Homo sapiens: one gene and its partner. The protein of the gene in region 1 purifies or fractionates together with the protein of each later gene. This does not show direct contact. Each region holds a gene or a part of one and is shown in the gene's direction. Other genes may lie near its edges.

Region 1 (7,051 bases):
GACCGGGAACAACAGAGTTACCATCGTTTAGTCCTGACTGCCTTGGACGGTGGACATCCACCCCTAAGCGGCACCACTGAGCTCCGGATCCAGGTAACCGACGCCAATGATAATCCCCCGGTATTCAACCGAGACGTGTACAGAGTCAGCCTTCGGGAAAACGTGCCACCAGGCACCACTGTGTTGCAAGTGTCAGCCACTGACCAAGACGAGGGCATCAACTCAGAAATTACTTATTCCTTCTACAGAACCGGGCAAATCTTTAGTCTGAATTCAAAGAGCGGAGAAATTACCACTCAAAAGAAACTGGATTTTGAAGAGACCAAGGAATATTCAATGGTTGTAGAAGGGAGGGATGGTGGTGGACTGGTTGCACAATGTACAGTTGAAATTAATATTCAAGATGAAAATGACAATAGCCCAGAAGTTACATTCCATTCTCTACTTGAAATGATTCTGGAAAACGCGGTGCCTGGAACACTAATTGCTTTGATCAAAATACATGACCAAGATTCTGGGGAAAATGGGGAGGTTAATTGTCAATTACAAGGCGAAGTCCCTTTTAAGATTATCTCTTCATCCAAAAATTCGTATAAGTTGGTAACAGATGGAACCCTAGACCGAGAGCAAACCCCGGAGTACAATGTCACCATCACAGCCACAGACAGGGGCAAGCCGCCCCTCTCCTCCAGCATAAGCGTCATCCTACATATCAGAGACGTCAACGATAACGCTCCGGTTTTCCACCAGGCGTCCTACTTAGTCAGTGTACCCGAAAACAACCCTCCTGGGGCCTCCATCGCGCAAGTCTGCGCCTCGGACCTGGACTTGGGGTTGAACGGCCAAGTCTCCTACTCTATCATGGCCAGCGACCTAGAGCCTCTGGCACTGGCCTCTTACGTGTCCATGAGCGCGCAAAGTGGGGTGGTGTTCGCGCAGCGCGCCTTTGACTACGAGCAGCTGCGCACCTTCGAACTCACACTACAGGCCCGCGACCAGGGCTCGCCTGCGCTCAGCGCAAACGTGAGCCTGCGCGTGTTGGTGGGCGACCGAAACGACAACGCACCGCGGGTGCTGTACCCCGCGCTGGGTCCCGACGGCTCTGCGCTCTTCGATATGGTGCCGCGCGCTGCAGAGCCCGGCTACCTGGTGACCAAGGTAGTGGCCGTGGACGCAGACTCAGGACACAACGCCTGGCTGTCCTACCACGTGCTGCAGGCTAGCGAGCCCGGGCTCTTCAGCCTGGGGCTGCGCACAGGAGAGGTGCGCACAGCGCGTGCCTTGGGCGACAGGGACGCGGCCCGCCAGCGCCTGCTGGTTGCTGTGCGTGATGGTGGACAGCCGCCACTCTCCGCCACCGCCACGCTGCACTTGGTCTTTGCTGACAGCTTGCAGGAGGTGCTGCCGGATATCACTGACCGCCCTGTACCCTCTGACCCCCAGGCTGAGCTGCAGTTTTACCTAGTGGTGGCCTTGGCCTTGATCTCAGTGCTCTTCCTCCTGGCCGTGATTCTGGCCGTTGCCTTGCGCCTGCGACGCTCCTCCAGCCCTGCCGCCTGGAGCTGCTTCCAACCTGGTCTCTGTGTCAAGTCTGGACCTGTGGTTCCCCCCAACTACAGTCAGGGGACTTTGCCTTATTCCTACAACCTATGTGTTGCACATACAGGAAAGACGGAGTTTAATTTCCTAAAATGTAGTGAGCAATTGAGTTCAGGACAAGACATACTTTGTGGTGATTCATCTGGGGCCTTATTTCCACTTTGTAATTCCAGCGAGTCGACTTCCCATCCTGAGTTGGTGAGTTTCATTTATGTCTATTCTTTTTCATTACCCACCCAATTTTCTGTATTTACATGAAACTATCGTACATTTTCAAGTCCAATGAGTTGTCTTAGGGAAGTCAGAGCTGCTCAGAAAGCTGTCCTACCATTCTTTAAGAGGAGCAGTAAATTGTGAGTTTTTATGTCGCATAAAAGAAGTAGCCTTATAGATTTACAAAGTAGTGAGAGTTTGCTCTTAGCTTCCTCTCTAGCAAAAACATTTGGTGCGTTTTTTTGTCCTCTTTCTCAAAGCTAATGAATTTTACCTATTCGTTGTCTCATTCTTTAACATGTTTATATTTTATTGTATGTAGATAAACCATTAAATTTAATGTATGTAATCATTTAATTCATCTTTTAAAGCAAAGAAACTGCTAGTAGATGTCTTTCTTCACTGATTTCACTGGTAGTTTTCATCTCTTTCTTATGTTCCTCATATATGCTTTCTTATTCCTACCTAATGGATTTATGATTTTTTGAATCTCCTAAAATTTTATTAAAAATACTATATGTTGGCTGGGTGCAGTGGCTCATGCCTGTAATCCCAGCACTTTGGGAGGCCGAGGCGGTTGGATCACATGGTCAGGAGTTCAAGACCAGCCTGGGCAATATGGTGAAAACCCGTCTCTACTAAAAATACAAAAATTAGCTGGGTGTGGTGGCGGGCGCCTGTAATCCCAGCTACTCAGGAGGCTAAGACAGGAGAATTGCTTGAACCTGGCAGGTGGAGGTTGCGGTGAGCCGAGATCACTCCATTGCATTCCAGCCTGGGCAACAAGAGCAAAACTCCATCTCAAAAAAAAGGAAGGAGAAGGAGAGGAAGAAGAAGAAAAATACTACATGTTATGTGTATGAGAGAGAAAGAGAGAGACTGATTCACTGAACTTAGAAGGTCCAAATCATCCAAATAATTTTCTAAGTTTATCCAGGTTTTCTTGGATGCAAAATCCTTTTCCACCTCTATATAATTACCAGAAGAAACTTACAAAAAAAAGGAAATGCTATTGCCTGAATTTCTCTTGCTCGGAATCCTGACATATTCTTGAAGAAGGGGAAAAAGACACCGGATTTGTCTTATCGTTTGGAGCTTTAAATATAAATGACTGGATGTTTTCTCAACATCCTTGTAGGATGGAAGGTGAATACAGGATTATTCCATTTTTAAGACAAAAACTACTAGTCTTGTGTACATACAAAGCTCCCATTACATGGTATAAGTCTTTTGCTTGGTTTCCCTTAGTATGTGATTCAGTAAATGGGTTCCTTACAAAGTGCTGAGATTTCTTATAATACCACTTACTTTTAACCTTTCAGTAGTTTTCTTTGTTGTATATTTTGTGTTCTTTTTCCCAAATTATTATATAAGTTTAAGTGATGCTTAGAATAATGTTTAAGACCACTTTAAAATTGCATAATTTATTGATGAAGGATTAAAATAGAAACTTGCTTTTCAGTGTATATGCATTTGAATCATTGAAACACAGTCTGTGCATGCATTACATATTCACATTAAAAAACTAAGCATTTTTGAAATAGCAGAAAAGTTTAAGCAATTACAAAAATGTGAAAATTTCCAACTTTAATCCTGTTAATATTTAGCAATATTAGGCGAGAACATCTGTAACTATTGCTGAATTAATATTACTTTTATAATACAAAAATTTAAAATAAACGTTTTTCCAGGAATTTTATCATCAAAATAAACCCCAGAAAATAATTTCAAAGTGGATAATCTATCCTTATATATGTATTAATACAATTATATATTTTACATTTACAAATATATAGGTATAAAAATTAAAAATGAATGTACTTCCAAACAAGATTGCACATAAAAATTACTTCAGAAAATTGTTAAGATACACAGAAAAAATTGAAGCATCATAAAAAGGAAATTATAATAGTTTACATATCTAGAAATAGAGTGCAAAGTTCTACCAAGAATAAGAATAAATTAATATTAAGCAATGGTTTGTGATTTTATAATACACTTACAGAAATTTTATTCCACTTTATTTACAACTCAGATATCTAAAAAATAGATTGCTTTTGAAATACAAATGCAAGAAACAATTGGAGAAATCTAAAATCATAATTAGAAGAGAGTAGTGTTTTCTTTATCAGCCATCTGATATAATGTTACACATCAGTGGGTGTAGTAACGGCTTAGGACTCTGAGCGCCGCTGTTGATCAACTCTAAGCGAAAATCAGGACTCCATCCGGATTTCCAGTTCTGCGGCTACACAAAACCCGGCAGATACCACAAACCTGCTCCCAGGCTGCAGCAAAACTCAGCCTCTTTCTTCTAAGGAAAAGATCACCATACTTTGCAGGGTGGAAGAAAGAACCTGATGAAGCAGCGCGCACAGAGATCCTTTTGAGAAAATTCCAAAGCGAGGCAGCAATGGCAGCTCCAACCAAATGCCAGCTCCGCGGAAGATTAGTCCTGCTATGCTCGCTCCTGGGGATGCTATGGGAGGCCAGGGCCAGTCAGATTCGCTACTCAGTGCCTGAAGAGACAGAAAAGGGCTATATTGTGGGCAACATCTCCAAGGACCTGGCTCTGGAGCCCCGGGAGCTGGCGGAGCGCCGAGTCCGCATCGTCTCTAGAGGTAGGACGCAGCTTTTCTCTCTGAACCCGCGCAGCGGCACCTTGGTCACCGCGGGTAGGATAGACCGGGAGGAGCTCTGTGCTCAGAGCCCGCGGTGTCTGGTGAACTTTAAAGTCCTGGTTGAAGACAGAGTGAAACTGTACGGAATAGAAATAGAAGTAACTGATATTAACGACAGCGCCCCAAAGTTCCAGGCCGAAAGTCTGGAAGTAAAAATTAACGAAATCGCGGTTCCTGGAGCACGTTATCCACTTCCAGAAGCTATTGATCCGGATGTTGGCGTGAACTCCCTCCAGAGCTACCAGCTCAGCCCCAATCACCACTTCTCCCTGAACGTGCAGACTGGAGACAATGGAGCCATAAACCCAGAGCTGGTGCTGGAGCGCGCCCTGGACAGGGAGGAGGCAACTGCCCACCACCTGGTCCTCACGGCCTCGGATGGCGGCGAGCCGCGTCGCTCCAGCACAGTGCGCATCCATGTGACAGTGTTGGATACAAATGATAATGCCCCGGTTTTTGCTCAACGGATTTACCGAGTTAAAGTCCTTGAGAACGTGCCCCCAGGCACCTGGCTGCTTACTGCAACAGCCAGCGACCTGGATGAGGGAATCAACGGAAAAGTGGCATACAAATTCTGGAAAATTAATGAAAAACAATCTCTGCTATTCCAGCTTAATGAAAATACTGGGGAAATATCAACAGCAAAAAGTCTAGATTATGAAGAATGTTCATTTTATGAAATGGAAATACAAGCTGAAGATGGTGGGGGATTGAAAGGGTGGACAAAAGTGCTCATTTCGGTGGAAGATGTAAATGACAATAGACCTGAAGTGACCATTACATCTCTGTTTAGCCCAGTGAGAGAAGACGCACCTCAGGGAACAGTAATTCTTCTTTTCAATGCTCATGACCGAGACTCCGGGAAGAATGGTCAAGTTGTCTGTTCTATCCAGGAGAATCTATCTTTTACATTAGAAAATTCAGAAGAAGATTATTACAGATTGTTGACGGCCCAAATTCTTGACCGAGAAAAAGCCTCAGAATATAATATCACGGTGACTGCAACAGACAGAGGAACTCCGCCCCTGTCCACAGAAATTCACATCACCCTGCAAGTGACTGACATCAATGATAATCCACCTGCTTTCTCTCAAGCCTCCTACTCAGTCTACCTCCCGGAAAACAACGCCAGAGGTACTTCCATCTTCTCCGTGATTGCCTATGACCCTGATAGCAATGAGAATTCTAGAGTTATTTACTCCTTGGCAGAGGATACCATCCAAGGGTCTCCTCTCTCCACCTATGTCTCTATTAACTCAGACACTGGTGTGCTGTATGCTCTGTGCTCCTTTGACTATGAGCAGTTTAGAGATTTGCAAATGCAGGTGACGGCAAGTGACAGTGGAAGCCCACCACTTAGCAGCAATGTGTCATTGAGACTGTTTGTTTTGGACCAGAATGACAATGCCCCAGAAATCCTGTACCCTGCCCTCCCCACTGATGGTTCTACTGGTGTGGAGCTGGCACCCCGCTCTGCAGAGCCTGGCTACCTGGTGACCAAGGTGGTGGCAGTGGACAGAGACTCAGGCCAGAATGCTTGGCTCTCCTACCGCCTATTCAAGGCCAGTGAGCCAGGGCTCTTCTCGGTGGGGCTGCACACAGGTGAAGTGCGCACAGCTCGGGCCCTGCTAGATAGAGATGCGCTCAAACAGAGCCTTGTGGTGGCTGTACAGGACCATGGCCAGCCCCCTCTCTCGGCCACTGTCACGCTCACAGTAGCCATAGCTGACAGCATCCCAGACATCCTGGCTGACCTGGGCAGTCTTCAGATCCCTGCAGACCTGGAGGCCTCAGACCTTACCCTCTACCTCGTTGTGGCTGTGGCAGTCGTCTCCTGTGTCTTCCTCACCTTCGTTATCACGCTGCTGGCCCTCAGGCTGAGGCACTGGCACTCCTCGCATCTGCTGCGGGCTACCAGTGATGGGTTGGCTGGTGTGCCCACCTCACACTTTGTGGGTGTAGATGGGGTTCGAGCTTTCCTACAGACCTATTCTCAGGAGTTCTCCCTCACCGCTGACTCAAGGAAGAGTCACCTGATCTTCCCCCAGCCCAACTATGCAGACACACTCATCAGCCAGCAGAGCTGTGAGAAAAATGAGCCTTTGTGCGTCTCTGTTGATTCCAAGTTTCCTATAGAAGACACCCCTTTGGTTCCGGTGAGTTCATTTTTTTTCTTTCTTTCTTTTCTTTTTTTGTTTTTTGTTTTGTTTTGTTTTTGAGACAGAGTCTTACTCTGTTACCCAGGCTGGAATGCAGTGGTGTGATCTCGGCTCATTGCAACCTCCGCCTCCCAAATTCAAGCGATTCTCCTGCCTCAGCCTCCCAAGTAGAGTAGCTGGGACTAGAGTAGAGTAGCTGGGACTACAGGCCTCCCAAGTAGAATAACTGGGACTACAGGCACGTGCCACCACGCCCGGCTAATTTTTTGTGTGTTTTTAGTAGAGACGGGGTGTCACCATGTTGGCCAGGCTGGTCTTGAATTCCTAACCTCAAGTGATCCACCCACCTCAGCCTCCCAAAGCACTGGGATTACAGGCGTGAGCCACTGCGCCTGGCCC
Region 2 (7,169 bases), on another chromosome or scaffold:
GAGCCCAAGAGTTTGAGACCAGCCTGGGCAAGATGGTGAAACCCCATCTCTACAAAAAATACAAATATTGGCCGGGCATGGTGGCAGGTGCCTGCAGTCCTAGCTACTCAGGAGGCTGAGGTAGGAGACCTACCCAGGAGGTCTAGGCTGCAGTGAGCCGTGATTGTGCCACTGCACTCCAGCCTGGGTGATAGAATGAGACCCTGTCTCAAAATAAATAAATAGCGGGGCACAGTGGCTCACGCTTATAATCCCAGCACTTTTGGAGGCTGAGATGGGTGGCTCACTTGAGGCCAGGAATTTGATAACAGCCTGGCCATCATGGCGAAACCCTTTCTCTACTAAAAATACAAAAAGATTAGCCGGGCTTGGTGGCAAACACCTGTAGCCCCAGCTACTGGGGAGGCTGAGGCAAAAGAATCACTTGAACCTGGGAGGCAGAGGTTGCAGTGAGCTGAGATTGCACCACTGCGCTCCAGCCTGGGCGACAGAGTGAAACTCTGTCTCAAAAAGAAAATTCAAAAATAAATAAATAGGCCGGGAGTGGTGGCTCACGCCCGTAATCCCAGCACTTCGGGAAGCCGAAGCGGGTGGATCACCTGAGGTCAACAGTTGCAGACCAGCCTGGCCAACATGGTGAAACCCCGTCTCTACTAAAAACACAAAAATTAGCCTGGCTTGGTGGCGGGCACCTGTAATCCCAGCTACTCGGGAGACTGAGACAGGAGAATCGCTTGAACCTGGAAGGCGGAGGTTGCTGTGAGCCAAGATCATGCCACTGCACTCCAGCCTGGACAACAAAAAGCAAAACTCCATCTCAAATAAATAATAAATAGATAAATAAACCTTTTAAAAAGTTATATATAATATTATATATATTTTATATTTATAAATATATAGTTATATACTTATATTAAACATAGATTATAGTTTACAGCTGCTGTGTTTCTATATCTTAGCTATTATGAATAGTGCTGCAATAAATACGGGGGTGCAGACATTGATTTCATTTCCTTTTGGATATATACTCAGAAGTGGGATTGCTGCATTATATGGTAGTTCCATTTTTAATTTTAATTTTGATGAACATTCATACTGTTTTCCATAGTGACCGTACCAATTTATGCAAGAGTTCCCTTTTCTCCACATCCTTGCCAATACTTATTATGTGTCGTTTTGATAATAATGGTTCTAAGAGGTGTGAAATGATTGCTCATTGTGGTTTCGATTTACATTTCCCTGATGATTAAGGATGTTGAGCACCTTTCCATTTACCTGCTGGCCATTTGTCTGTTTCCTGAGAAATGTCTGCTTAGATCTCTTGCCCATTTTTAAACCAGGTTATTTGGGATTTTTTGCTATTGAGTTATTTAAGCTCCTTATATATTTTGGATATTAACCCCTTATCAGATCGTTTTTGATTTGTAAATATTTTCCTCAGCTCTGGAGGTCACCTTTTTACTCTGTTGTTTCTTTTGCTGTGCAGAGCTTTTTAGTTTGATGCAATCCCACCTGTCTATTTTTGCTTTCGTTTCCTGTGCTTTTGGTGTCATATCCAAAAAATCATTGCCCAAGCCAATGTCAAGTTTTCCCTATGTCTTCATCTAGTAGCTTTACAGTTTCTGGCCCTATAAGTCTTTAATCCATTTTGAATTGATTTTGTATATAGTGTGAGATAAAGGTCCAATTTCATTCTTTTGCATGTGGATATTCATTTTTAGGGATGACGAAAATGTTCTGGAGACGGATGACGGTAATGATTGACAACTTTGTGAATGTAGTTGATTTCACTGATTTGTGCACTTAAAAATGATTAAAATAGTCAATATTTAGTTATGCATATTTTACAACAATGAAAAATATTTAGGCCGGGTCCAGTGGCTCACACCTGTAATCCCAGCCCTTTGGGAGGCCAAGGCAGGCAGATCACTCGAGGTCAGGAGTTCTAGACCAACCTGGCCAACATGGCGAAACCCCATCTCTACTAAAAATACAAAAACTCAGCCGGGCTTGGTGGCATGCACCTGTAATCCCAGCTACTCAGGAGGCTGAGGCAAGATAATTGTTCGAATCCGGGAGTCAGAGGTTACAGTGAACTGAGATTGCGCCACTGCACTCCAGCCTCGGCAACAGAGTGAGACTCCATCTCAAAAAAAATTTTTTTCAGAAAAAAAAGAGAAACTTGCCCATGTTATGGAGCTAATGAGTGGTGGAAATGCGTTCTGAACCCAGGCAGTCTAGTTCTAGGATTCTGGCATATGTCACCAAAAGAGATTGGGATATGAAAGGCCTTTAGGGAAAAATACAAAGCATGAGAAAAAAAATGGAAATACTAAAAAATAATAGGCCATTTATGGAGCTTTGCTCCTTATCAGTTATCTTTCTTCAGGCAGCTAGAAATGGTGGGAAACACTCAGGATCGAAGCTCTAGGAAAACTGGTTCCAAGTCTGGAAACTATGAGACTGCAGCAAATTCCCCCTAGTCTCTCAAGCTTCCTCCTCCTTGGGGTTAATAGCCAATCTGCCAATCTTCAGGATGGTTGTGCAGGTCACAAGAGTTAATGGGTGTGTGTTTCAATGATCTATTACTGAAATGATCTATAATAAACCACCCCACTCTAAAGCTGGGCTTAGCTGGGCAGTTCTTTTGGTCCACATGGTGTTCATGAGGTTATTCATGTAGCTGCATTCAGCTAGTAGCTCAGTGGGGGTTGGAATGTCCAAGATGACTTCAGTTACATATTATAGTGCTTAGCTGTAGTTTCTAGAATGTCTTGAGGAGTTGGCTGGGCCTCCCTCTCTCTCCAGGTGCCTTTCCAGCAGAGTAGCTACACTTCTTTATAACCAAGAAGGTAGAATCAGACGTTTTCAATCCTCTTAAGGCCTAGGCTCAGTACTGGCAGAATCACTTGTAGCACATCCTATTGGTCAAAGCAACCAACATGACCAGCCAGATTCAACAGGAGGTAAAACAGAGTCTATCTCTTGAGGAGAGAAACCGTATGCTCATCATGCAAGGACGGACAGAACTACGTGGCAGCCATCTTTGCAGAAAATCCACCACAGTGGTGCCCATAGGTGGGGATCAGAGTTCAACTGTCCCTTGCCCCCTAGAATTAGATAAAAAGAGTCTAATGAACTGTTAGCATAATGCTAAGTGCTGCAGCACACAAAATGCTCGGCAAGTGCTGATGATTATTATTAATCATTATTATTCTTTTAATAGCTTTTTTAAAACAGTCTAAGATAGCACTGGTACTGTATTCAGTTTAAAGTGATATACATGGGTCAAATGAACTTTGAGTTCTTTCCCAACCTTAATACCATGATTCTTTGAGTCTCTTTTTCACAGATTTGGAAACTGAGGCTTAGGAAGATTGCGTGACTTGTCTGGAGTCACACACTAAGCTAGTGCATGACGTCCACATTCAGAGATATCTCCCTCCACTGAATATGCTGGTTTTCACTCGTTCATTTAAAAAATAATGTATTGGGCATCTACCACAAGCCCAAAGGAGTATACATAAACATATACTGACAATTATTTATTGAATACATCCTATGTAATACTGTGTCACTGAATCCTCATCACAAGCCTATGATGAACCAACCCCCTTCCCATTTCACAGATGGGAATGAGGAAGAGCAAGGTAAAAAACGAACAAACAAAAAAACAGGGTCCACCCTCATGGGGATTACAGTCTACTAAAGAGGATATAGGATAGTCAAACAAATACTTAAAATCAAACAAATACTTAAATATATAATTACAAATTATTCTTGGAGTCGTACTGCTCTTGGAGCCCCAGTGCCCACCCTTTCCCTCAAATCAAGGTCTCAGGTAACCCTGGCAATGGGTCTTCCTGCCAGTAGTAAAGATGGCGCTGAGAGCACGAGCGCACTTTCGCACACCCCCATTACCCACAATGCAGCGGGAATAAGGGAGGCTCAGTTTCTGCCAGGAGCTAATATGGCTTCCTTAGTTACACCGTTCTCTCTCTTCACCTAATCAGCGACCTTACTTTCCCAGACCAGACTGTCGAGCAGGAGCTAAGACTCCTTTTCCCCTCTGCTGACCGCCACTACAGGAGCGGTTGAAGCCAGACGACCACCTTGTGGAGTTAAACTCCGTAACCAGGGAGCACCACTTCCGCTGACGTCATTACGGCGACACGTGGATCCAAGATGGCGACGGCGATGGTGAGTGAAGGAGACTCCGGGAGCGGGAGCTGGAGCGGGGCCCTCCGGGGTATCCCAGGATCTTCCAGCACCCCATGCCTGGCCCTGAGCCACCTCCGGGACCCCTGACTCAGGCCTGAGGGCTACCTCTGACTGGGCTTGTCTTCCCCGAAATCCACCTCCCTGGCCCTGCCCCTGCACTCAGGCTTGTGAAGGCCCCGAGTTTTGGGGGAGGCGCCGTTTCGGAGGAAGACCTCGGCTGCTGCCTTCGCCGGTTCCCATTCTACTTTTGGTCTCCGCCCACTGTGAGCCCCATTTTCCATTTCTCACCTCCCTGTCCTGACCCCTCTGAAGACCCCCTCCCGTTATTCTCATCCTTGCTCCTCCCCGTCACGTCCAGACCCTGCTCTCCCCGCCTCCCCACCATCATAACCAGTCCGCAGATGTGACCTCTCCTCTGACCACCCTCCCAGCCCAAGCGCTGCCTCAGATCCTTTTCAGAGCCCTGTCCTCACTTACACTCATAGCTGTCCCCATCGCGCACCCCCTTGACTGCCGCTACCCCAGAGCTTGCCTTCACCTACCCCACCCCCATCTTTCATCCCTAGAGGCTTCCCTGCCCTTCCTGTCTTCTCTCAGTCAACTCCCTGCCCCTCTCTTAGGGACCTTTTACCCTGTTGGTTCTCAAACTTTACTGTGCATAAGAATCTCGAGGTGTGTAGGGGGAGGCATGCTAAAAATGCAGTTTCCTGAGCAGCCCCACTCCCAGAGATTCTAATTCCATAGGGCTAGGTGATGCCCAGGAATCTGCCCTTTTATAAGCACTCTAGTGATTATATAGTGGAGGTGGTCTGTGAACTACGTTTTGAAAAACACTAATAGCCCCACCTCACTGCTCTCCTTCCCATTCCCCAACATGGCCACACAGCTCGTTAGGGATGAAGGCTCTTTATTATGAAGCTATATGTTGGGATGAAGTCTGTGTGTGGATGAGGGTGGAGGTAAAATAGCCATGCTTGGAAGTTGGGTCAGAGCTTGCGGGCTCCTGGTGCAGAACCTTGGAAGTAAATCTTTGAAGGACTGGCCCTTTTTCTAAAAGTTTAGTTCAAATTCTGCTTGTCAAGAGACCAGAACTAAAATTGAAGTCACTTAGTCCAGAATGATTTCCTGGGTCTTCCTGCATACTGCCTCCTCAGCAGATAATTTCGTCCGGGGAGTGAATGACAAGGAAGACTCAGAGAAAAGGAAATGACATTTGACTTTAGCAAAGGAAGATTCTGGCTTAAATAATTTGGTGTTGGTTTTCTCCAAACAGGGATATATTATTGACTGGTAGCAATTTTCCCTCCTTCTCTTAGCTGACTGAGAACTTACCTTTGTTTAATGAGGGATTCCTTATTTAGAACTTCAGAGGTCAGGTAAAAAGATTTCATGGCCTTACCTGGTTTCTGTGGTTTCAGACTTCAGGCTGAACCACGAGTGGGGCAAATCCTCAAAGTAGTATGTTGAAACCTACATATATGTATATATATTCTGGTACCACATTCAGAACAGAGATAGTGTAAGAACTTAAAAGGAAATCACACCCTCTCTTGCTATAAGGAAAACATTGAGTAAAGTGGTATTTACGGCACTGCACTGGGAAATCCCTGCCTTGTTCAGAGATTTTTAAGAGGTTATAAGCTAGCAATACATATATGTGGTACACATCTATTTAGTCAACAAATATTTGAGTACCAATTCTGTTCCAGGAACTAGGGATGTAGTTGTGAATTACAGGGTCAAGGTCCCTACACTTGTGGAGCCTTTCTGGTTTGAGGAGACAGGCAGTGAACAAGTAAATACGTGAACAAAATAATGTCACCAGTAGATGCTGTGAGGACAGCAAAATGAAGTGATAGTGATTAGGGGTGACTGGGTGACACAACTACTTTGGATTGAGTGGTCAGAAAGAAGTCTTCTCAGAGGAGGTGACTTGAGTTAAAACATAATTAACAAGAAGGAACCAGCCATGCAAAGAATGTTCCAAGCAAAGGAAATGGCAAGTGTAAGGGGCCGATGTGGAAGGGAGCTTGGTGTTTTTGAGGAACACACAGAAGGCTGGAGGGGCCGAAGCATGATGAGGGTTGGGGTAGGAGAGAATGATACAAGATGAAACTGGAGGGAAGCAAGAGCAACTGTTTTGAGAAGCATGCCTGGAAATGGGAAGGACTGCGGTCTACATTTTGTTGTCTGTGGATTGCATTTTGAAATAGTGTTGTATTAGGCTGCTTCCCCTTCCCATCCCCTTCAGGACAGTACTTGAAGGGAGCCAGCTTGTTCTCAGTTGGCACAGAGGCTGTGGAAAGGAGTTTGGATTTTAGTCTAAGCACAGTGGAAGGGACAGTGATTTTTGCCCAGCACAGTGACTCACACCTGTAATCCCAGCACTCTGGGAGACCAAAGCTGGGAGATCGCTTGAGCTCAGGAGTTTGAGACCAGCTTGGACAACATGGCAAACCCCTCTACAAAAAAAATACAAAAAGAAAAAATTAGCTGGGCTTGGTGGTGTGCACCTGTAGTACCAGCTACTTGCGGGGCTGAGGTGGGAGGATCACTTGAACCTCAGTGAGCCCTGATCACTGCACTGCACTCCAGCTTTGGCAACAGAGCGAGACCCTGTCTTAAGAAACAACAACAGGCCGGGAGCAGTGGCTCATGCCTGTAATCTCAGAATTTTGGGAGGCTGAAGCAGGCAAATCACTTGAGGCCAGGAGTTCAACACCAGCCTGGCCAACATGGCGAAACCCTGTCTTCTAAAAATACAAAAATTAGCAGGGTGTGGTGGCACACACCTGTAATCCCAGCTACTCGGGAGGCTGAGGCACAAGAATCGCTTGAACCCGGGAGGCGGAGGCTACAGTGAGCCAAGATCGTGTCACTGCACTGCAGCCTGGGTGACAGAGTGAGACCCTATCTCAAAAAAAAAAAAAAAACAAAAAACAAAACAC

Evidence for each region. The genes of interacting proteins can lie anywhere in the genome.
Region 2: the proteins of PCDHGA9 (region 1) and TM9SF4 purify together in Homo sapiens (co-immunoprecipitation; 2 studies listed by BioGRID and IntAct, with this or other methods). This does not show direct contact.

What each region holds. Positions count from the first base shown.
Region 1 is NC_000005.10:141,398,728-141,405,778, forward strand, and holds the start of PCDHGA9 (protocadherin gamma-A9 isoform 1 precursor), read left to right. Parts: upstream 1-4,050; 5' UTR 4,051-4,225; coding exon 4,226-6,649; coding exon of another isoform or gene 6,650-6,712; exon of another isoform or gene 6,713-6,772; intron 6,773-7,051. Other genes in the region: PCDHGB5 (protocadherin gamma-B5 isoform 1 precursor), read left to right, coding at 1-1,797. UniProt on the Homo sapiens protein: Potential calcium-dependent cell-adhesion protein. May be involved in the establishment and maintenance of specific neuronal connections in the brain.
Region 2 is NC_000020.11:32,105,556-32,112,724, forward strand, and holds the start of TM9SF4 (transmembrane 9 superfamily member 4 isoform 1 precursor), read left to right. Parts: upstream 1-4,158; 5' UTR 4,159-4,185; coding exon 4,186-4,200; exon of another isoform or gene 4,201-4,484; intron 4,485-7,169. UniProt on the Homo sapiens protein: Associates with proteins harboring glycine-rich transmembrane domains and ensures their efficient localization to the cell surface.